Linked DNA regions of Homo sapiens. The protein of the gene in region 1 interacts with the protein of each later gene in a pairwise test. Each region holds a gene or a part of one and is shown in the gene's direction. Other genes may lie near its edges.

Evidence for each region. Proteins that work in one complex are often made in the same cells at the same time.
Region 2: the proteins of TMEM97 (region 1) and SAR1A interact in binary tests that used the Homo sapiens proteins (3 or more experiments, as listed by UniProt).
Region 3: the proteins of TMEM97 (region 1) and VSIR interact in binary tests that used the Homo sapiens proteins (3 or more experiments, as listed by UniProt).

The regions. Positions count from the first base shown.
Region 1 is NC_000017.11:28,314,931-28,322,721, forward strand, and holds the start of TMEM97 (sigma intracellular receptor 2), read left to right. Parts: upstream 1-4,269; 5' UTR 4,270-4,309; coding exon 4,310-4,435; intron 4,436-7,791. UniProt on the Homo sapiens protein: Sigma-2 receptor which contributes to ameliorate dysfunctional cellular processes and slow degenerative progression by regulating cell functions including cholesterol biosynthesis/trafficking, membrane trafficking, autophagy, lipid membrane-bound protein trafficking, and receptor stabilization at the cell surface.
Region 2 is NC_000010.11:70,153,515-70,160,514, reverse strand, and holds part of SAR1A (small COPII coat GTPase SAR1A), read left to right. Parts: intron 1-2,647; coding exon 2,648-2,751; intron 2,752-6,545; coding exon 6,546-6,677; intron 6,678-7,000. UniProt on the Homo sapiens protein: Small GTPase that cycles between an active GTP-bound and an inactive GDP-bound state and mainly functions in vesicle-mediated endoplasmic reticulum (ER) to Golgi transport.
Region 3 is NC_000010.11:71,770,521-71,778,196, reverse strand, and holds the start of VSIR (V-type immunoglobulin domain-containing suppressor of T-cell activation precursor), read left to right. Parts: upstream 1-4,676; 5' UTR 4,677-4,757; coding exon 4,758-4,839; intron 4,840-7,676. Other genes in the region: CDH23 (cadherin-23 isoform 1 precursor), read right to left, coding at 1-8, 296-517.

The DNA.
Region 1 (7,791 bases):
CTGGGTTTGGTCTGAAGACCCTGTGCGGGAAGGCACTGCTCTGCCCTAGGGATAGAAGACTTGGCCTGGGGCTGGGCGTTAGGATACCAGGGTTCCAGTCCCTGCCTTGTCACTCACTTTGTGACCTCGGACAAACACCTCTCTGAGTCTCAGTTTCCTCATGAGGTGTTAGGCCCTAGATATCTACAAAGGCCCTCCCAGCTCTTCATGTTCCATTTTTTTTTTTTTTTTTTTGAGACGGAGTCTCACTCTGTCACTCAGGCTAGAGTGCAGTGGTGCGATCCTGGCTCATTGCAACCTCCACCTCCCAGGTTCAAGTGATTCTCCTGCCTCAGCTTCCCATGTAGCTAGGACTACAGGTGCACGCCACTATGCCTGGCTAATTTTTGTATTTTTAGTAGAGATGGATTTTCACCATGTTGGCCAGGCCAGTCTTGAACTCCTGACCTCAGGTGATCCACCCACCTCAGCCTCCTAAAGTGCTGGGATTACAGTCCTGAGTCACCATGCCCAGCCTTTTTTTTTTTTCTGAGACAGAGTTTTGTTCTGTCGCCCAGGCTGGAGTGCAATGGTGCTATCATGACTCTGCAACCTCTGCCTCCTAGGTTCAAGTGATTCTCCTGCCTCAGTCTCCTGAGTAGCGGGGACTGTAGGTGTGCACCACCATGCCTGGCTAACTTTTGTACTTTTAGTAGAGTTTGGGTTTCACCATGTTGGTGAGGCTGGTCTGGAACTCCTGACCTCAGGTAATCCACCTGCCTTGGCCTCTGCTGGGATTACACGTGTGAACCATTGCGCCCAGCCTTCATGTTCTCATTCAAGTGAATGGTTTGGAGAAGTGAGAGAGGAGCTGTATACAAAAGTCCCCCTTATCCGTGGGGGAACATGTTCCAAGACCCCCAGTGGAGGCCTGAAACCATAGGTAGTACTGAACCATATTGTTTTTTCCTATACATACAAACCTATGATAAAGTTTAATTTATAAATCAAGCACAGTAAGACATTAACAATAAAATAGAACAAGTATAACAATATACTGTAATAAATAGTATGTGAATGTGCTCTCTCTCAAAATATCTTACTGTTCTCTAGATCTTAGCAACCTCAGCATTATTTCCTAAATCAAAAATCTTCACCTTTTCACATAAAGGAACTTTATGGTTTCTCATTGGCATATCCGAATTGTCACATCGCTACCATTGCACTTTAGGGCCTTTGAGAGGGGTCTCACTGTTGTGGAGGCTGGAGTGCAGTGAGGTGATCACAGCTCACTGCTGCCTCAAACTCCTGGGCTCAAGAGATCCTCCCACCTCAGCCTCCTAAGTAGCTGGGACTACAGGCAAGCCACCATGCCCAGCTAATTTTTTTTTAAGAGATGGGGTCTTGCTATGTTGCCCAGGCTGGTCTTAAACTCCTGGCCTCAAGGGGTCCTCCTGCCTCGGCCTCCCAAAGTGATTACAGGTATGAGCCACCACACCTGGCCCACTATTAAATAACATAAGGCTTACTTGAACACAAGCACCGTGATAACTCAATGGTCAATTTGATAACCAAGATGGCTACTAAGTGACTAACAGGAGTAGTTAGTCTGGGAACAGAGTGGAGTCTGAGAAAGAGCAAACTGCCTTTAAAGATTTATGGTGTGAACAAAATGGGCTCTCTCCTCAGGTGACCTAAGGTTTCCCAGGCATTGACTTTTTTTTTTTTTCCTGGAAAAAAAGCAGCAGCTAATTCTGAGTCCTCCCTCCTGAGCCCCTGGTAGAGTGTTCTCTCCATGGAGCCCGGCTCCCCCCTCGGAGCAGGACAAACAGCCCTGAACACCCCTGCCTCCCTGTGGCTGCCGGCTCTGTGGTCCTGGGCAAGGCTGACCTGAGACTTGGGGGACGCCAGAACTGTGTGCCCTCACGATGCTCAGCCACCCATGCTGTTCATCCCCTGCTCCCCACCCAAAGACCTCCACATTTCTCCTACTGTCTCCTTCCAACCTGCTCCTCCTCCTCTCCAGCCAAACCCCTCCACTGTTACCTCCCCCAGTAACTGGCACTTGGCTGAGGACTCAGCTTCCCCACAGCCCTCTCCAGCGCAGGCTATTCACCTTCTCGCACCCTTCAAGGTCAGGATAAGCGGCCTCCTCCCTCCGCAAGGCCATGTCCACACAGTTTCCCCTCCACTCTCATCCCATGCTCACCTTCCTTCTGGTTACTCCCCCGTGTGCAGTGGCATTTTCGCCACCACCACCCTGGGTGGCCTTCCCTTGACCTCATCTCCAAAGACCTTCCCCTCCACTCCATTTCAGCCGCACACTCCCACGGGCAGAACCTCTTCCTGACCCCAGGAATTCAGGTATTGCACGCCCTCCTCATAAGCTCCCACCCTTCCGGCCCAGTGACTCCCATCACGCTGGCACGTGTTCCTCAGCAGGCCTCCACTGTCTCCCTGTCTTACAGCCCCCTTTGGCCTCACCTCTCCCTCTCCCCCTACCTAGCTTGAACTGCAACCTTCTGCACCTCAATCACTCTTCTTCAGCTCTTCAAAGCCACCTTTCGCTTTTCTGAACCCAAACTCTGTAGGGGTCCAACAGCCTTCTTCTGGGTAGACCCCGCACTAGAGAAATGCAAAGCACACAGCCTAAGAGATTGGGGCCTCCGGGTCAGCGGCCCCCCACCTCAGCTGGGCCTTCAACACTGCCATAATCCCTCTGTCCTAGCCCACAGCGCCCCAAGGGAAGGGGAAGCTGGGCGGAGCGCAGTGCACCCACCTAACCCACCCCAATCCTTCCATTCCCTCCGCCTCCTCCAGGGCTTTGAGCCGCATTTCCTGCTCTTCTCGAGTAGGGGTAACCTCTCCCACTGTCAAAACTAAACTAGCTCAAGTCTTTCTCACCTGCAAAATAAACTCTCGAGTGCATCTCTCTCCAGCTACTGCCCCATGTCTTCTCCCCTTCGTGACCAGCTGTCTACACTTCCTGCCTCCATTTCCCCACTTTCTTACTCCCTGGCTCCTGCCCCCACGACACAACTGTTCCCCACAGGGCCACAGGCGGGCATCACTCAGTGTTGACAGGCTGCCCCTCCCTGTGACATAGCCCCCTGCTAGTACGCTCCTATCTCAGTCCCCTCCTCCCATGACCTGAGGCTGGAGCTCCCCCAGGATCTCTCCCAGGCCCTCTGCTCGCCATCAAAGGCGGATGCCTCACAAGCTTACGACTCCAGACAGGCTCACCCAACTGCCTCCTCCACCCAACGCTGCAGCCCACTCAAGGTCCACGTAGTCCAAGCTGCATTCCTTCCTCGCACTCCCTTGCCCTGTGTCCCCTCTTAGCAAATGGCAGCCTCGGCGATCCTGCCCCGAGACAGGCCTGCGCCCAGCGTGGAGATGAACATCAGTATTTGCTGAACGTGTAAACGAATCCTTGACCTTCCCTCATGCTCCACAGCCGGTGAGGATTCCTGTCCATTTTACTGCCTCCTACGTCCCTCGAGTCCTCCCCTCTGCTTCTTTGTTCACCGCGGCCAGCTGCCTCCCCAGACCCGCAACCCCGGCTGGGCCGGGAACCTGCACCGCGGCGCTCGTGCCCCGCTCTGCGACCCCTGCTCCGTGACGGCCGCACTGCACCGGGGTACCGCGGCCCAGCACAGGCGCTGGTCACTAGTACACGAACTAGCTAGGACTACAGGTGCACACCACCACACCTGGCTAATTTTTTATTTTTTGTAGAGATAATGTCTTACTAAGTTACCCAGGCTGGTCTTCTGGGCTCAAGCCATCCTCCTGCCTCGGGCTCCCAAAGTGCAGACATTACAGGCATGACCCACCGTGCACAGCGTCAGCTTTATTTTTTTAATGCTGACTTACTGCAGAAGGCCCAAGGGCCAGTGCAGTTTTCATACTGCTGTTGTAGTGGCGAACGGAGCCACGAGGGAAGGGAGCGCCGCCGGCAGCTGCCGGGACACCAGGATACCACGCGGCCAGCACCGAAACGCTAGGCTCGCGCTCACAACCGCAATCTACACTGAGTAGCCGCGCGCCGAACGGCGTGACTAAGCCCCGCCCACACGGCGCTCCTGGCGGCCAATGGAAATGGCTTACGAGACGCCTTCTCCACGCGCTATACTTATACGGACCAATGGGTGCGCCCTGTGGGGAGTGCCGCCCCCTGTCCACGAGCCTCCTCTTCTCGCCAGCCAATGGAAGCGGTCTGCCTAGCCCTCGCGGGGGCAAGGCGGCGACCGAGGCGCGTGGGTCTGGGAAGGCGCGCGGATTTGGCCCCTCTTCTCACATCAGCGGGTCCAGGCCCAACCGACAGACTATGGGGGCTCCGGCAACCAGGCGCTGCGTGGAGTGGCTGCTGGGCCTCTACTTCCTCAGCCACATCCCCATCACCCTGTTCATGGACCTGCAGGCGGTGCTGCCGCGCGAGCTCTACCCAGTCGAGGTGAGGGGCGCCCCTCTTATCCCGGCCCGCTGAGGCTCTCCCGGCGCTGCGTCCACAGGGCCTTCACCTCCTCCGCGCTCGCGCACTCTGGGTTCCAGTTGCCTCTCTCGGGTCCTGCCCATGCCTCCCCCGCTCCTAACCCAACTTTAGTTCGGTGTTTTCCTCGGGCTTTGTCTCTATCCCAGCCCCTTCTCCCAAGCGGCGGGGGCGAACGCTTTGTTTCCTTTAAAGTCACTTCTTCCCTGGGTTTAAGGTTTCCCGCGATTCCACCTCTGGCCGGTTGTCAGTGTCTGAGGGAAGTAGTCTGGATGAAGTGGTGTCCAAAGTCACATGTTAGGTTTGCTTTAAGCTTCTGGTTTTTTGTTTGTTTGTTTGGAAGGGCTTTAAAATACCAGTCTGATCCCAAAGAAAAAATCCGAGTAGAAATAGACCTGTCTGAAGGTTTAGCACCTTGGTTGGTGCAGCTGGGGCGTTCACAGATCGTCACTGCTTCGAGATCAGGTTCCAGCAACTTCCAGAGCTCAGGAGTAAATTGCCATCTTTTCAGATTGGCTCTTCAATATTGGGTTCGAGTAACAATGATCTCCTGAGTAAAAATAAAGGTGAAAATCCCGATTTCCTGGTTGTTGGAGAGCATTCTTTCAACCCCAAACTCTGCTTTAATGCTTTGTTTTTTTCTTCAAAGCTATAGTTTTAGTTTCCCGGTTCGTTGAGGTTTTTTTCTCGTATCTGGACCCTGTGACCTTCTTCCATGGAATTCCTGTCCTCAGTTTTGTTTCTCCATCTTATCTATAACTGTAGGCAGGACTGACTTGTCTACCCGAAGATTTTATTTTGCGTCTGTTTTTCCTTAAATGCTTTTTATCTGCCGAGGAGGGGTTCTTTACCTGAGGGTCATGAACTCCCAAAAATGGGTGCAAGTGTGTGTGCCTTTTGTTTCCTGCAAGGAGAATATAGCTTCCATCGACTTTTCAAGGGGCCTAACTCTCCCAAAAAGGCCACGGCTCAAGAATGTTCTACCACTCCCATAAGTCACTCTTTTTTGTTTGCTTCTAGAACCAAACACAACTGGAAGACCTCTGACCTCCTTTTGCATGGGAAAAGCGTAGGTAGCGTGTAGCAAGTTGCAGTCTGGGGACTTGGTTCTTCCAAGAACTGGAGGTGACTTGGGCAGGTCAGGGCTCTATATCCTCCTCAACTGTTGAGAGAGTTGAGTTAAATTATAAGCTCAAACATATACAGGGTGGGTTAGTTTTCATATTGCTGTTGTAGTTACCACAAATGTAGTGATTTAACAGATTTATTTGTTTACAGTTCTGGAGGCCAGAAGTTCACAATGAAATCTTACAGTGCTCAAATCAAGGCAGGGCTCACTCCTTCTGAGGGCTCCAGGGGAGAATCTGGTTCTTGCCTCTTCCATTTTCTGGTGGCTGCCAATGTTCCTTGGCTTGTGTTCACGTCACTTCAATCTCTGCTTCGGGTCATCACATTGCCTCCCTTTCTGTAGTCAGAGTTCCCTCTGCTTCGCTTTTATAAAGACACTTGTCATACATTCAGGGCCCACCAGATAACCCAGAAAATCTCCCATTTCAAAATCCTTAATTACATCTGCAAAGTCCCTTTTGCCAAATAAAGTAATAGTCACAGGTTCCAGGGATTAGGATGTGGTTATCTTTGGGGGCCATTATTCAGCCTACTACAGGGCCAGAGAGTACAGACTCTTCCCAAAGACCGAAGAGGTCATCGCAGCTCTGCAGTAACCATTAATTGCCCTGAAGAAAGGAAAATCTACTACAGTGTTGGCCTATCTGTGGTTTTTGAAACCTGTGTGGCCAGCAATACTCAGACAGGCTGCCTGTTTACAATCTCTGGTGTTATAGGACCTTTTAATACTTGGTAATTAGCCTGCTACTCCATGTAGCCATTCCAGACTTCACAGCTGTTGTCTTCTTTATCCTTCCTGGATGTGCCATTCTCACAAGCCCGTCTTGCTCACCCCTAACAAAATACACTTAAAAGGTGCTCAGCATCATATCATAAAGATCCCATTTAAATGTTTACATTTGATAAAATTTTCTCAGTCTTTTTTTTAGAAACAGGGTCCTTTGTCACCCAGGCTTGGCGTGCTGTGATGCAGTCATGGCTTACCACAGCCTTGAACCTGAGCACAAGAGATCCTCCCACCTGTCTCCTGAGTAGCTAGGACTATAGGTGCACACCACCACACCTGGCTAATTTTTTATTTTTTGTAGAGATGATGTCTTACTGTGTTACCCAGGCTGGTCTTCTGGGCTCAAGCCATCCTCCTGCCTCGGGCTCCCAAAGTGCTGAGATTACAGGTGTGACCCACCGTGCCCAGCGTCAGCTTTATTTTTTTAATGCTGACTTACTGCAGAAGGCCCAAGGGCCAGTGCAGGCAGCATCTGGCCAGAACCTGTGTGTGTGTGTGTGTGTGTGTGTGTGTGTGTGTGTGTGTGTTTGTGTGAGATTTAGGCATTAGCACGGGCATCCTGGGTGTGTGTGTATCTGTGTGTGTGATGATGTTTGAAGGCATTAGCTCGGTGGCATCCTGGCATGGAAGGTCTGTGCCTCCATTCTTGTTGCTTTGGTGTAGGAAATGCTGATTTTGTTGCTTCTCTATGGGGCAAATAATAATAAACGCCTTGAGTTATTCTCATATTCTCTTTGAAAAATGCCAAAATTTAACATCTGTCATTTTCTTCCTGAAATAGAAGGAATGTTTCCCTAGAGTTAAAAAACCTGTAGGAGATCACCTAGTGGTTGGGCTGAAACATGCACAATAAATTTTTTTTCTTGGATTGCACCAAATCACTGCTTGGAAAAACTCATTTTTTTATTTACTTTTTGTTTTTCTTTCTTTTTTTTTTTTGATTTTGTTTTTGAGACAGTCTCTTGTCGCCCAGGCTGTAGTGCAGTGGTGCAATCTCGGCTCACTGCAACCTCTGCCTCTCGGGTTCAAGCAATTCTCCTGCCTCAGCATCCCAAATAGCTGGGATTACAGGTGCTTGCCACAACGCCTGGCTAATTTTTATATTTTGTTATAGATGGTGTTTCACCATGTTGGCCAGGCTGGTCTCAAACTCCTGACCTCAAGCGATCTGCATGCCTCAGCCTCCCAAAGTGCTGGGATTACAGGTGTGAACCACCACGCCTGGCCTGGAAAAACTCTTATTTTATTATGAAACAGTAAGAATTTAGTTTGGATAAGAACATGGTAAGGAGAGGATGGGAAGCATTTTGTAGTATCATTTGCAGCTGGGTAACATTGCTTCTGGTAAAAATAAGGAAAAACAAGTGAGCATCTGGCTCTGAAATCAGTCTGTGTTCCCATTCTA
Region 2 (7,000 bases), on another chromosome or scaffold:
TTTTCTTCTATACCTTTTGCTCAAATTTGTTAGTCTCCTCCTCCCTACATAATACATATTAATGCTTATTTTTTATGAACTGTTTGTGAGCATATCATGCCCCTTTACTCTTTAATACTTTAGTGCCTCTTCTTTATATAATACATATTAATGCTTGTTTTTAATGAAGTGTTGGTGAGCATATCATGCCCCTTTACTCTTTAATACTTTAGTGCCATTTTCTAAGAACAAAGATATTTCCTTGTATATAATCATAATAGTTATCAAATCCAGGAAGTTTTATTTTTATCCACTCTGTATTTCCTTTTTTTTTTGGTCAGTTGTCCTGATAATCTCTTTTATACCATTTTTTTCATCTTGACCAGGTATACGGTATCATATATCTAGTTATGAAGTCATTTTTGCATCCTTTATTCAATGGAGTGAAAGTATGTAGGAAATTAAATATTTATAAGTAATTTCAGACTTGTCAAAAGTTGCAAAAGTAATACAGTGACTATGTGTGATTACTCTGATACAAGTTGATATTTTGTATATTCTATCCATTTCAGACAGTTGGTGGAACATTTCCTTCTACCTTTTTGCTTTCCTCAGAAGTGCTTTTTGCCTACTCAGGCTATGTCTTTGGTTTCCAGATTCCTATCAGGTGTTTAGAGACATACAGAGTGTCATCTTTGTCTGATGGGCACTCAGTTCACATTTGACAAGACCGTAGGTATAGGAGTAAAACATTTAAGATGTGAGAATAAATATTCTGGGAAAGTAGGGAAAAGGAACTATTGAGATTCTGTCAGATTTACTTACTTGTTATTACACTGAGTGGAGAAGTCTTGTTTTGAAACATTAGGTTGAGCTAATACCGTTTTTTTCTTTTTTTTGAGATGGGGTCTTGCTCTGTTGCCCAGGCTGGAGTGCAGTGGCACAATTTTGGCATACTGCAACCTCTACTTCCTGGGCTCAAGCAATCCTCCCACCTGTTTTTTGTAGAGACTGGGTTTCCGCCATGTTGCCCAGGCTGGTCTTCAACTCCTGAGCTCAGGTGATCCACCTGCCTCAGCCTCCCAAAGTGCTGGGATTATGGGCGTGAGCCACTGTGCCCAGCCTAATACAGTTTTTAAAAAATGTATAGTAAAATATAACATTGGTCATTTCTAGTTGTTAAGCCTAATAATTTTATAGTCAGTGATTTCATTAACATATAATTACATTTTAATTAATTTATTTAATATTTATGCCCTGAAAAATCATGTATATTATGATCATAATCACATAAAATACCAGTAAAGAAAAGAGGCTGGAAGAAAATATCAAAATATTGACAAGGGGTGTGTTTTGATAGAGGGATTAGAAATGATTTTGTTTCCTTTTTTTCTGTAAGGAGCTTGTATTTTTTTCATTTGGGTAAGAATGGGTATATGGTGTCCTTTCTGCTGCTTCCACAAAAGGATTTGTAACTGCTTACAAATTTAAATTCAGAGCAAGATAAGACTGAACCTAGACCATCTGGAGAATGTAGAAGGACCAGACGCCAGATGGTTTTATATACCTGAACTGGGAATTGTAGATTGTTTGGTGTGATAAATTTAGGTTTCAGGTTTTGTTAAAAGTAAGAAGGGAAATGTATTGATGTAATTAGTTTTGTTTATTTGACTGAGGAAAATCTACTTAACAAAAACACTTTTACATAATAACCTAGCCACCATTTTATAAAAGTTACTAAAGTACTGTACATCTGGAGGTTTCCTTTTTTTTTTTTTGTATAACTTAAAAATTTTAACTTATAAAAGGAGAGCAAGTTCGATGTAACAAAATCAGTATAGAACTACGGAAAGTAAAATGGAAAGTTCCTTCAACCTCTTTTTCCTAGCTCCACTCTTTAAAGGTAACCATTATTAACTGATGTAGAGATGGTTCGTTATTCATTCTATTGCAAGGGCTAGAAATTAATGGCTTAGAAATGATAGTACAATTAAATCACTGCTTCCCAGCCTTTATCGTTTCATGTCACAAGCAAAAAACCAAGTAATATTTATAAGGCATGCTGGGTTAAATATGGTAGGTTGAGATAACTGGCCTGGGGCCTTGAACCACTTGTCAGGCCTAGTCTCCCTAAGGGCTGAGCAGAGGAATGTGTCAAGACGCCTACACACAAGTTGGCTAGAAACTAACTGGGACTAAAGTTACATGGACAAGTAATTTGTATCCTGATGTTTTAACTCAGAGGTTGCAAACTAGACTTGGCCCCAGGGGCAAGGCAAGTCATTTAAGTGAGTAAAATTGGCTGACTGTAAGACAGCAGGGAAATTTTGTCAAGCAAAAGTGTTCAGACATCATCTGAAGGGGCAGCCACTGCTTAGTTCCTGCTGATAATTGTCACGTGGATAAGTAGGCATGGGATTGCCAGATGTTGCAGTTTTTCAAAAAAAGCGGAAACTCTGATTTTCAAATTTACAAAAATCAGGTTCAGCTCATGGACCATCAGTTTGCATCCTCTGTTCTGAATTAATACTGGCCAGAACTTGGAGAAATCCATAGAGTCTAATCTTACTGAAACCCGACCAAGATTTGTCCATTTTATAGACCATTAGGTTATTCATTTTCACAATGTATATTTTTTACTCATGCAACTACAAACTTTGTTTTTTAGCACGTCGCGTTTGGAAAAATTATCTCCCAGCAATTAATGGGATTGTCTTTCTGGTGGACTGTGCAGATCATTCTCGCCTCGTGGAATCCAAAGTTGAGCTTAATGTATGTTTTGTCCTTTAATGTGTATTTTAATGTATATTTTGTTCTTTTTTGGCCTCTATTTTTTTTTAAGGAATATAGCTCAGTAGTGCCAATAATTAGTCATTCCAGTTAACATTTGGCAAAAAGACCTAGTTGCAGGAGGAAAATGTTTTAAATCTAAGACATTGCTTTTCAATGTCCTGAGGAAACTCAGCTCAAACTTAAATAAATTAACTGTTGTTTCTATCATACAGTGATTATATGGCCAAGTTTGCTCAGGATACTCCTCATTTATGCCTGTTGTCCCAGCATAATTAATAGTATTCTGTTTCACGTGTCATGAACAGTAATTCTGTTTTTTTTTTTTTTTTTTTTTTTTTTTTGACGGAGTCTTGCTCTGTTGCCCAGGTTGGAGTGCAGTGGCGCAATCTTGGCTTACTGCAACCTCCACCTCCTGGGTTCGAGGGATTCTTCTGCTTCAGCCTCCCGAGTAGCTGGGACTACAGGCACGTGCCACCACGCCCGGCTAGTTTTTTGTATTTTTAGTAGCGACGGAGTTTCACCATGTTAGTCAGGTTGGTCTTGATCTCCTGACCTCATGATCCACCCGCCTTGGCCTCCCAAAGTGCTGGGATTACAGGCATGAGCCACCGCGCCTGGCCCATGAACAGTAATTCTTTATAAGTAGTGTTGGCATAGTGAAAGCCTAAAAGCGATATTAGAGTTCTTTACATTTTTGAATCTGCATTCTCAGCTTGTGCCTACCCACCCTCCCACTGAATGACTTGCCAGACCTTCATGGTCTGTTCTCAGTCTTCAGTTTTGGTTGCATACATCCTTTGATACTATTAAGGACTCACTTCAAGTTTTCTCCTTTGTCAACATTGCATTTTCTCATGGCTTGATGGTTTCTATACTATTGGCTTTGTTATCCCTACTCCTTTACCCTATATCTCTTCTTTCTCTTTGATTTATAACTCCTTGCATTCTTGTTTCTGGCAACTTGAACCTGTCTTGAATTTATTTCTAAGTATGTTTCTCACATCTATAGCTCCAGCCTCATGTAGAATTGCCTGCCACGCAGTCTTTACCTTGCTTTTTTTTTTTTTTTTTAAACAGAATCTTCCTCTGTGGCCCAGGCTGGAGTCCAATGGTGCAATCACGGCTCACTGTAACCTCCAGACTTCTGGGCTCAAGCGATATTCCTGCCTCAGCCTCCCAAGTAGCTAGGACTACAGGCATACACCACCACACCCAGCTAATTTTTTTTAAAAAAGTGTTTTTGTAGAGACAGGGTCTCATTATGTTGCCCAGGCTTGTCTCAGTCTCCTGGCTTCAGGTGATCCTCTGCCTCGGCCTCATGAGGTGCTGGGATTACAGGCATGAGCCACCATGCATGGTCTCCATTCTCTTTGTTTAAACTCCTCTTTTCACTCTTGATTTTGGAGCTACCTCTCTGGCTGATACTTCTGTCTCTTTGAGAAGCACTAGTTCTTCTGGTTAGTCCTTAAATGTTGGTGTTCTCCAGAGTACTTTCTCCTAGGCTGGTCCCATCTACTCCCTTCATTTGGCACCTACATGTCAGTGACTCTCAAATGCATTTCTCTCCTCTAGACCTCTCCTGAGCTCTAATCTCATACCTAATCCTGCCTACTCTCGACAACTCCTACTACTGATTCTGTTTTCCTAGAATGGAACTATTTGTCTTTCCCACCCACCACCTACCTGGACATGCAGTCCACAAATCTGTGAATTAATATAAATCCTACCATGACCCTGATATGCACCATAATGCTAGAAGGAACTTTCTCAGACTTAATTGCCCTACTTAATATCCTTTGATAGTTCTCTATCATTTTCAGGATAAAATCTATAAATCTTTTGCATAGCACATAGGATCATTCATGATCCTCCCTCTGTTTCTTTTTACTGCCTACCTTGAACTATATTCCAAACAAACAACTTAGCCATCCTTGAATATGCACAAGTAGCTACTGCCTGGCTTTTTCACCTGTACCTCTCCTCAACCCCTCGCTTTGTCGGCAAATTTTAAAATGTTCTATAAGAGACCTCAGAGTTCAGATATGACTGCTTCTGGTAAGCCTCCCTTGACCTCTGAGACTGTGTTAGACTCCCACCTTACCAATGTCTGTTGTCTTTATTGATTTTTTTATAGTTCTCTCTCATCAGACTATGAACTAACATGATAGGGACTGTGTCTTATTTCTTTGCAAAACCCCTGCACCTAGCAAAGCATTAGACACATTAGGTACTTTGTTGTTGCTTAATGAATGAAGGACATTCTTATTCTAATTTTGTGTAACATTTCCTGGAATTCCAGATGGTCAAAGTACATTCCTCTTTATCTCTTTAACTCTGCTTTCCCCGCTAGCTTTCCTATTGGTGACAACTAGATTCCCAGGCTTGAAATCAGTGGCAGTTTTGACTCATTTGTCTTTTTTAAATTTTTTTTTTAATCATTTAGACATTGGTCTCTTCAATTCTTTCTTCAAAATGCCTCCTGCAGTATTCATTGAATGCTCTACCTTAAGCTAGATCATGATCTCTTACATGAACACCACAGATAGATACTATTTGTGAATTCATTATACTGAAAAATAAGATTTTATTCACTAACTTCTGGATTTGTGGTCTTTTAGGATATATTGCAGCTCACTTCTCACACTGGCCCCTAATGTGAGTCATCTCTTCTCATCCATTTACTTTGTCGCTGCATGTCTATCTAAATGCTTGAATCCAGCCATGCAGTACTGTGTGGCTTCCTGAATTATTGTCCTAATGCAAAGCCGTTGTTTATGTTCTTACTTCTCCTTTACACCTATCCAAACCCTGCCCTTCCTTTAGAGCCCTGTTTAGGTTCCAGATCTTTTCTAAGACTTTGCTCAAGCCCAAAATTGCCATTTTATTTCCCTGAACTTGTCTTAATGTTAATATTCAGTTCCCATTCATTGTGACACTTATCCACTATATTGTGTTCTTACTTGGCTTTGTTAACATAAATGTGGCTGGGCGTGGTGGCTCATGCCTGTAATTCCAGCATTTTGGGATGCTGAGGTTGGCAGATTACTTGAGGGGCAGGAGTTTGAGACCAGCCTGGCCAACATGGTAAAACTCCATCTCTACTAAAAAAATACAAAAATTAGCCAGGCGTGGTAGCACATGCCTGTAGTCCCAGCTACTCAGGAGGCTGAGGTGGGAGAATCGCTTGAACCTGGAAGTCACAGGTTGCAGTGAGCTGAGATTAAGAAAAAAGAAAAAAAACATAATGTGAACATAGAGTGAGGATTTTTTTGAGGACAGGAATGTGCTTCCTTTTGTATCCTCAGTGCCTGAGATAGTTACCCTTCCTACTTTATTCCTCTCAATGCCTGAGAGAGTTCTTCGCACACAATGGGACTTGGTGAATACTTGGGGAATTCCTGTAGTCATCTTTGAGGCTCTGTAGCCAGAGCATTCATTCTTATAGGACTTTGCTGAGGGACATCCTGAGGATAGTTTGTGGCTGAGCAGATTAGCTCAAAAGTTAATATTGGGGCAGTTCTGCTGCCTTGTAAATAAATAGAATAAAGTTGCAACTGTTTCGAGGCACTTAGGAGATTTTTACTTAATGTCATGGGTGTTATGTAATGTCAAGGTGAATCTTTAATCACTCAGGTATAAAGTTGATCAGATTTTCACTTTACATTAATGCCTTAAAAGATTAGTGGAAGTCAGAATTTTCATTATCTGGTGGGCTTTTGTAGATTCCTCACTTAATTCTTTTTTTTCTTTTTTTCTTTTTTTTCAATCTTTAGGCTTTAATGACTGATGAAACAATATCCAATGTGCCAATCCTTATCTTGGGTAACAAAATTGACAGAACAGATGCAATCAGTGAAGAAAAACTCCGTGAGATATTTGGGCTTTATGGACAGACCACAGGAAAGGTAAGAGAAAAATATTTGGGTTACATATAAAGGACATTAACAGTTTTTAAAACATGATGTTTCGCTATCTAGATTACCCTTTTCTTTTAAAGGCTTAAACAGGCTTAGGATTAGTTTTACTGTGAGTATTTTGTAAGCTCACTAGAGGCAGGAGTGTGTTCTTTTTAACGTTTTAAATGGGATTCATTCATCAGGTATTTGAGGAAGAAGGAAATGGTAGAAAAGGCAGATTTACTCTTCTAAGAGTTTATGATTATCTTTCAAATTTGATTCTGAGAAATTGCTTTTGAAATAGCCCTTTTTAGCCAGAAAATAATTTTTTT
Region 3 (7,676 bases), on another chromosome or scaffold:
ATGACACCCTGGGGGACACAGGGAAGGGACAAGGATGGATCTAGGGGTGGTAGGTCTGCAGCACCCTCTGACCAATTTGGGAAGTAGGCCCTGACATTGGAGCTGTGATGGGGAACCACTGCCACCCCCTAGCCCAGGCTCCACTCCACCAAACTTTTCATCCTCCCACACTGAGTGCCCCCACAGTTTCCCCTAGACTGCATCTTTGCTCCATCCCCCTCCAGTGTCACTGAACTCCTTGCCAATCCCTGGATAGGTTTCGCCCCTTGTCTTGATCCTGCCATCAGCTGCTGACCATGTGTCTGTCGATGCGGAAGGTGTTGACGATGTTGCCTGCGACGATGGCATAGGTGACTGTGCCGTTGGGACCCTCATCCAGGTCCAGTGCCTGGATGGTGATGAGGCTGGTGTTGAGCGTGTCTGGGCCCTCATCCAGCAGCACCTCATAGTGGGGCTGCTGGAACATGGGCGCGTTATCATTCTCATCCACAATGGTCACGTACACGTGCGTGGTGGCCTGTGGAAAAGAGTGGGTCACGTCCTTGGTCAGGTGGCCAGAGGGACCAAGGTGGATCCAGATGGCTGTTCTCCTGGGCTGAACTCACTCCATGTGACTCAAACAGAAAGGGCAAGGAGAAGAAAGCAGGGGGTGGGTCACAGGCTGGTAGAGAGAGAAAGCTCAAAAACTCCACCAAAAGCCAAGTAAGGTAACTGCTCTGTCCAAGATGGCACTGGCACCACCACTCCTATGTCTGCGACCCCCAGCAGACATCACTAATCAATCACAGAACTGCTGAGGCCAGATGCAAACTTGGGATCCTTGTTAGCACAGTGGTCTAGTGATTAAGACTGGCATATGGGATGAACCCTGGTAGTCACCCCAGCTCAGAGCTTTACGAGGGCCTGTGTCTTATTGAGCCTATATGTCCTGCCAGACTACAAGAGGCAAGAATGTGAGGCACTCGGCCCAATGCCATATTTAACCTTCATCTATTGTTCATGTAAATGAAAGAAATACATATTTTCAGCATTTCCAGAAGGAGGACATTGGGTTTGTGGCAATTTCGTGGGCAGAACTTGTTGACCTGTGAAAAATAAGACTCACAGAACATAACTTCATTCCAAGAACAGCTTCTACAACATACTCTCCTGTGATCGGCCATCTCTGCCAATGCTTGAGTCAATTGGACCACAAGTAATATTCAGCTAATCAGAACTCGGCAATCAGCACTCAAGAATCAACTAGAAATGGTTCTTGCTCCTGCTTCCTGCCTTTCTCCACCTGGGAAGATGTCCCCTGTGGACTAACTGCCTTACCCTGGCTCCCTTGCTATCCAGCTTCCTGCTGGGTGTGGCCAATGGGAGGCCCTGGCTGAAGATGAAAGCAGTGGGGAGAAAGAGGCGGGGGTGTTTCTTCCACACTCCCTCCATTCCTCACTGCGGTTCTGCCCATGGCTGTGTTTCTCCTGCTTGGGGACAGGGGTCCCCCTTTCATAGCACCAGCTTTCACTGGGCTCCAGAACATCACTTCCTCTTCTTTCCCTTTGGACATGTGAGTGGTAGTGGCTTCCTGTGGTTGGTGCTAGTCTCTGGGTGCTTTACCAGCCTTCCTAAACAGTCCCTGTATTAAACTCTCTTCAGTTGAACCCTTTCTGAGTGTGCCATCTGTTTCCTGCCAGGACCCTAACTAATACAAATCATAATGAGTGACTAATATAAAATAATAAGGTGTTAATCACTGCAAAGGTGTCTGGGTAGAGAGAACGTGACTAGGCCATTGCCAGGCCAGAGAACAGAAAGCAGGTGGTACAGACAACTCAATGTAGGCAATTTGCATATGGTTTTTTCCTTGGGACTGGCTGGCTCTGGAGCTACCACTGGAAGAATGGACAGATGGGCAGGGGATCTGGACCCAAGAAGGCTGTCACTGCCCCTGAGGAGGCAATGATTCCTCTGATATGCAGCTCTGGATCTTGGGGGTGGAGGGCATTGGGTGTTTGCTGAAACGGTTTCCAAAGCAGATAGGGTTGGCAGCCTTGAAAAGGAGCTGCGTGGCCTTGGGCAGGTCACATCCCCTCTCTGGACCTTTTCTGTCTGTTTAATAAAGGACCTGGCTTGATTTCTAAAGTTGTTTCTAGCTCAGGGAGTTTGGGAGGTGAGTTTGGGAATGTGGGAAATGTCAGCATCCCCTCCCCAACAGGGAGGCTGGAATTCAGCCCCTTTCCTGCAATGTGGTGCTCTTGTATTCTTGCCGGCAAGTAAGGGGACTCAGGAAGGCTCAAGGCTGGGCCCCTCACCAGTAGAGAGTACTCACAGCTGCCTCCAGGCCCTGCAGAGCCACAAGATGGACATGGTGGCTTTCCTTGACAGTCATCTTTATTCGAATATTTGGGGCCTTCACCACTATTTTTAATGAAAACAAGCACAAACACATGATGGAGTGTGCAGGCTGCAGGGGCTGGGAGTGGAGAGTTTGAACAGAGTTGGGCCTTGGAGCCCCTCCTGCTCTGAGACCAGGTCTGGGCTTGGGGAGGGAAGGTGGGTTTGACTTCCTCTGGTCTCGGAGGGAGGAGAAAGTCAGTGCTCCAAAGGCCCTCTCAGCTGAGCCCTTCCTGTCCTGCCCTGGTGTTGAGGAAACAGTGCTTGAGGTTTCTGGACCATGGTCCTTGGGCAATGCCTGTGTCTCACCCTGATGCAACCCCAGGAGGCTCAGTGGTGGGCAGTGTGGTAGGGAGAAAGGAAGTGAAAAGGGGGGAGGGAACTGGGCCCAGCTCAGAGGCTCTATCCCCCTGGGGAAGGGGTTGGCAGGGCAATTGCTCCCCTTTCTCTAATTCCAGGCCCTCCCCGGCTGCTAGGCCCTGGGGAAGAGGGAGTCTGGTTTCAAGGGTGTCCTGAGCAAAGCCAGTCCAGGAAGGGTTGAGATGGGGTGGTGCTCTAGGATCTTGCCCTTAAGGGACCCCCCTCACTTGCCAGAGGATGTCAGGGTGAGAAGGGCCCGGTGTCCACCTGATCTCAGTTGGCTTTGTACCTCCCCTGGTGGAAGGGAGCTCATGCTATGCCAGCAGGAAGGGCCCTGGGCTGCCTTCCAAGGTGGGGTCACAAGGCCAGGAGCATGCCCAAGGACCTGGGTTATGTCCTGCCAGCCTCTGGGGCTCCCATCCTGGGGAGTTCACTGGCTCCAGGGGGACTGGGCCTGCACAAGTTCACTTAGTAATAACATGATGCCTCAGCCTTCCTCTGTTGTAGCCTTCCCTGCCCTTAGAGCAAGGGCTAAGGGCCTCCAGAGAGCCCGTGACTTGGATCAGGCCACCCACAAGGCCCCCAGGACTCCTGGCTCCCATTGAGTCCTGATACCCTGGTTCCTGACCCAGTCAGACTCTGAGTGTCCTCTGCCTCTCAGCCTAGGAGTCACCTATTAACCCAAGATCCCTAAAGTGCCAGAAAAACCCCTGGAAGCTTCAGCTAGACTGGGGTAAACTGAGTAAAATGGCTGTGCTCTTCCACTCCTGTGATCCCTGGTCCTGGCCACGATCACCTCTGCTCCTCCATCACACAATCACTCACTCACTCATTGGTTTGTCCATTCAGATAAAAGTGCAGTAAAACCTTCTCCACGCCCAGCTTTGTGCTAGGGTCTCAGAAACATCAGAGAGAGGTTTGTAGTTTCGCTCTGGAGGGCAGAACAGCCGGAAGAAGAACCAACTGCTGGTTATCTCAGGCTGGAGGTGGTAGCTGAAGGGGGTGTGGACAGTAAGGATTTGCCGGGAAAAAGGAAGGGTCAGGACATTTCGTGAAGTGGGAGGACTTGAGCTGAGCCCTGAGGGATGAGAAGAATTAGGAGGGGAGAGACATTCCAGTGGTGCCAGCAGTGCTGGGTGTGGGTGCAAGAGCAGAGGCACTAGAAGTTAGGGTGCATCAGAGTGTCCTGCAGATATCCAGGCACCAGGGAGGGAGGGCGGGTGCACAGCCAGGCGGACAGCTGAGGCCTCTGCCGGAGGGGAGCTTGCAGGATGTGCTGTGGGGCACGCCAACAGGTGTTGCCTGCATATCTGTGTGTGTCCCGGGGTAGGGATGTGCTGATCTTGGCGTGTAGTCCTGCACCTGTTCTGTGTGTGTGTGTGTGTGTGTGTGTGTGTGTGTGTGTGCGCGCGCGCATGCACTCAGGGTGCCTCAGGCTCTGAATCTACAGTTAAACTGGCTCCAGCTTGCCTAGCTCTTCACAATGTCAGATTTCATTCATTCACTCATTTACTCACTCATTCCACAGCTGGGAGTGCCTACCACATACCAAGCCCTGGTCTGGCTGGAGGATGTAGGGTACAAGTCTCTGTCCCCAGATCACTCAAAGGCTGGTGGCTGAGGGCAGATGCAAGCCATGGTAACGTCTATCACGCTGTTAGAGGTAGATCTACTTCTTAGGCTGCGCAGCAATAATAATTTCTCTCCAAAAGGACTGGGGGACGGTAGAACGGGCTTTAAACTGCCGATCAAGTGGAGCTGACTCGCTGGGACGCACGCTGGCTCCCCACCCACGGGGCCGGCCTCCGGGAAGCCCCTCCCACGCGGCCCTCGGAGAGGCAGTTCCCCCACACGGCCCCCCGGGGGCGCTGCGCGAAGGGGGCGGGTGCCTGGAGCACGGCGCTGGGGCCGCCCGCAGCGCTCACTCGCTCGCACTCAGTCGCGGGAGGCTTCCCCGCGCCGGCCGCGTCCCGCCCGCTCCCCGGCACCAGAAGTTCCTCTGCGCGTCCGACGGCGACATGGGCGTCCCCACGGCCCTGGAGGCCGGCAGCTGGCGCTGGGGATCCCTGCTCTTCGCTCTCTTCCTGGCTGCGTCCCTAGGTAAGGTCGGGGGAGGCGGGGCGCTGGGAAAAAGCTGGGAGAAGACAGCAGACTGGAGTGGGAACTGTGGGATGGGGGCGTCCTGGGGGCCCTCTCAGCCTGTGTGACCGTGCACCCCACTCCACCCACCGCCCAGAGGCTGCTGGGACCCCTAGGCAGGGTGCAGTGGCAACTGTGCCAAGTGCCCCAGCTAGGCATCGGGCACATCTGCATGCTCTGACAGCTGCCCAAGTGGCAGGCAGGGCTGTCCCCTGAGGGCTGCCTGTCCAGCCCTTCCCTGCCCAGAGAACCCAGGGCACAGGTAGCTTCTGCAAAGAAGGAGAGGCACAGGGTGGGGGCGGTCAGTGTGTTCTGGTGGATATCACTGGCTTTTGACAGCTGGCATCTTTCTGCCCCTCTAGTCTCAGGGCTCTAGTGTTGCAGAGGACACAGAGGGCGTGGTATGCTCAGCCAGTGCCCCATGCCCTGGTGAAACCCCTGGCTGAGCCTTGGTGGGCACTGGGCACTGGTCACGGTGGGTCCACTTTCAGACACAGAGGCAGCACTGCCCACCTGGTCCCTATTCTAAGGGTCTGATGGCCCAGGAATAAGTGGTCAGCTGATTCCTGCCATCCTAGCAAGGCTGCCACTCAGGGACCAGTGTGGAGTACTGGGGAGGATGTGGGACACTCTTCAGCTCAGCTATGAGCCCCTTCTGGGTCCCTGGATAAATTACGGCATCTCTCTGGCCTCAGTTTCCTCAGCTCAAACACAGAAGCCCACACAGGGAAGCACCATTTTCCCCTTCCAAAGTCCAGACTGTCAGCATGTTCAGATAGTATCCTGGCCCCAACACAGGGGCTCCCGGGCTGGGGGCAGAGGCCCTGGTACCCATGGCCTGGTTGCCTAGTTCTTGCCTGCCCAGAGCTGAAGAGGCTGGATCTCTTCAAAGAGCCTGTGGAACCAAACTTTATAGGGAGGGCCCAGGGAAAGTATGAGTCATGCAGGGACTCGGAGGGAGGCAGGAGGGAGGTGGAGGGCTTGGCACAGGGACCCAGTGGGCAGGATGGAATAGAAGGAGAGGGTGATAGGATAAGAGGGAGAGGAGGAGGCTGAACCTGGAAGATACCTTAGCAACCTGGGTGCCCACAGGCAGCTGGCTATCTCAGCACTTGGAGGCTGGCCTGGGCCTCTGAGGAGGAGGAGGGCTCCACATGTCACAGACACAGCTGCCCTAAGCCCCAGGGTGGATGCTTCTCAAGGTGACAGTCAGAGGGAGGAGGAGAATGGGAGGTGGAATGGACAGTCTCAGCACCAAGGCCATGGCTCATGGCAGGGCATGGCTTCCAGAAGGAACAGAGGATGGTGGCAGGCAGGCAAGCCAGCATCCCACCTGTCATGGGCCACCTGCCCTGCACTGCCCTCCCTGGTGGCCCTGTGAGACCCTTCCTGCTTTCTTGCCCACTTCCTGCCCTCACTTGGCTGGGCTGCCCTCTGTTCAGCAGCCCCAATTTGAGAAACATTTCTAGAGATCCAGGGCACAGGGACCCAGCTTGCAGAGCACCCAGTAGCAGAGAGGCCCCAAGAGGAGCTCAGGACGCCTTCCCCTATATTGCTTATATGGCCAGGGGCCTTTACTCCCAGAGGTCTTGGCTACTCAAACAACATGGTATACTAAAGGGTCATCTCTTCCTGGGCCCAGCACAGGGAGATGATTTAGGCTGGCTGCAGCTTTCCACTGAAAGGAGCCAGAAGCATTTGAATTGCTCTGGGACCTCAGGATTCTGAACTGTGACATGGACACACTATAATAGATATTCACCCAACTCCCTAGGACAGTGTGCACTGAGGGAGATAGCAGATGGGAGGCCTGGTTGCAGGCATGGTCAGCAGGATCTGTAAGTTGAGAAGATTGATCACCAGCCTGCCGAGGTGCTGGGTTGCCCTGGGTATGTTGCCCAAGGTCAAAGCCTTTATGCCAGGGAAAGTGAGATAGAGTGGCCGGGGCCAGCCTGTTCTCCAGCTCTTGGGGTTGGGCCAGCACTGAGGAGAATGGTAGTGATGAATGTGGTGTTCAGAAGCCCAGGAAACACCAAAGATACCCCTTTCCTGGGCCTGACTCAGGGTGAGATGGGTGGAGAGGTACACTTAGGGACCAGGACCCAGCAGATCTCAAGGGTAGCAGAGCCTCTTCTTCCCCACAGACATTCCCAGGACCCGAGGCAGTTACTGTCCTTGCCCTGTCCTCACAGGCTGACTCAGGACTCCCAACCTCTGGGACTAGCACATTTAAGTGCACTGGGGCTAGGGACGAGAGACCCCATCTTCTCCTTCATAGCAAACCAGGCTGCAGGGCCTTGTTGAGTAACCCAGTGCTGCAAGCCTCTGACGCAGCAATGGTCAGCTCTTAGGAAATCCACAACCCACTGCCCAGAGGCTCTGGAGTAGAGAGGAACAGCCTTGAGGCCAGTCCCTGGCATGAGGGGTCATCTACCCAATGCCAGGGACACCCAAGGGCCAGCAATACTGGGAGTCCCTTGCTGAGCTGTACTAGTTGTTCATGCTTCCACCCAAGCAGGGCAAAGGTTCCGCTGGGGTCTGACCTTCCTGGGAGAGGGTGGTCCAGGCAGGAGTGTGCTGCTGAGACGCTAAAGGGGTCACCTCCCTATCCGCACACAGTGTATGGGGTGTTAGGCCTGAGCAGATGAAAGGAAGAAAGGGATCCTCAAGGAGAACCCGTTGGCAGTGAGCGAGCCCCACATACCAAACTTGAGGCCCCAGGCTTTAGCCAACCAATGACCCAGGGTCAGTCTGGTCTCCCAGGGGAGGGTGGGCCAGGGATCAGCACTGTGGCTTCC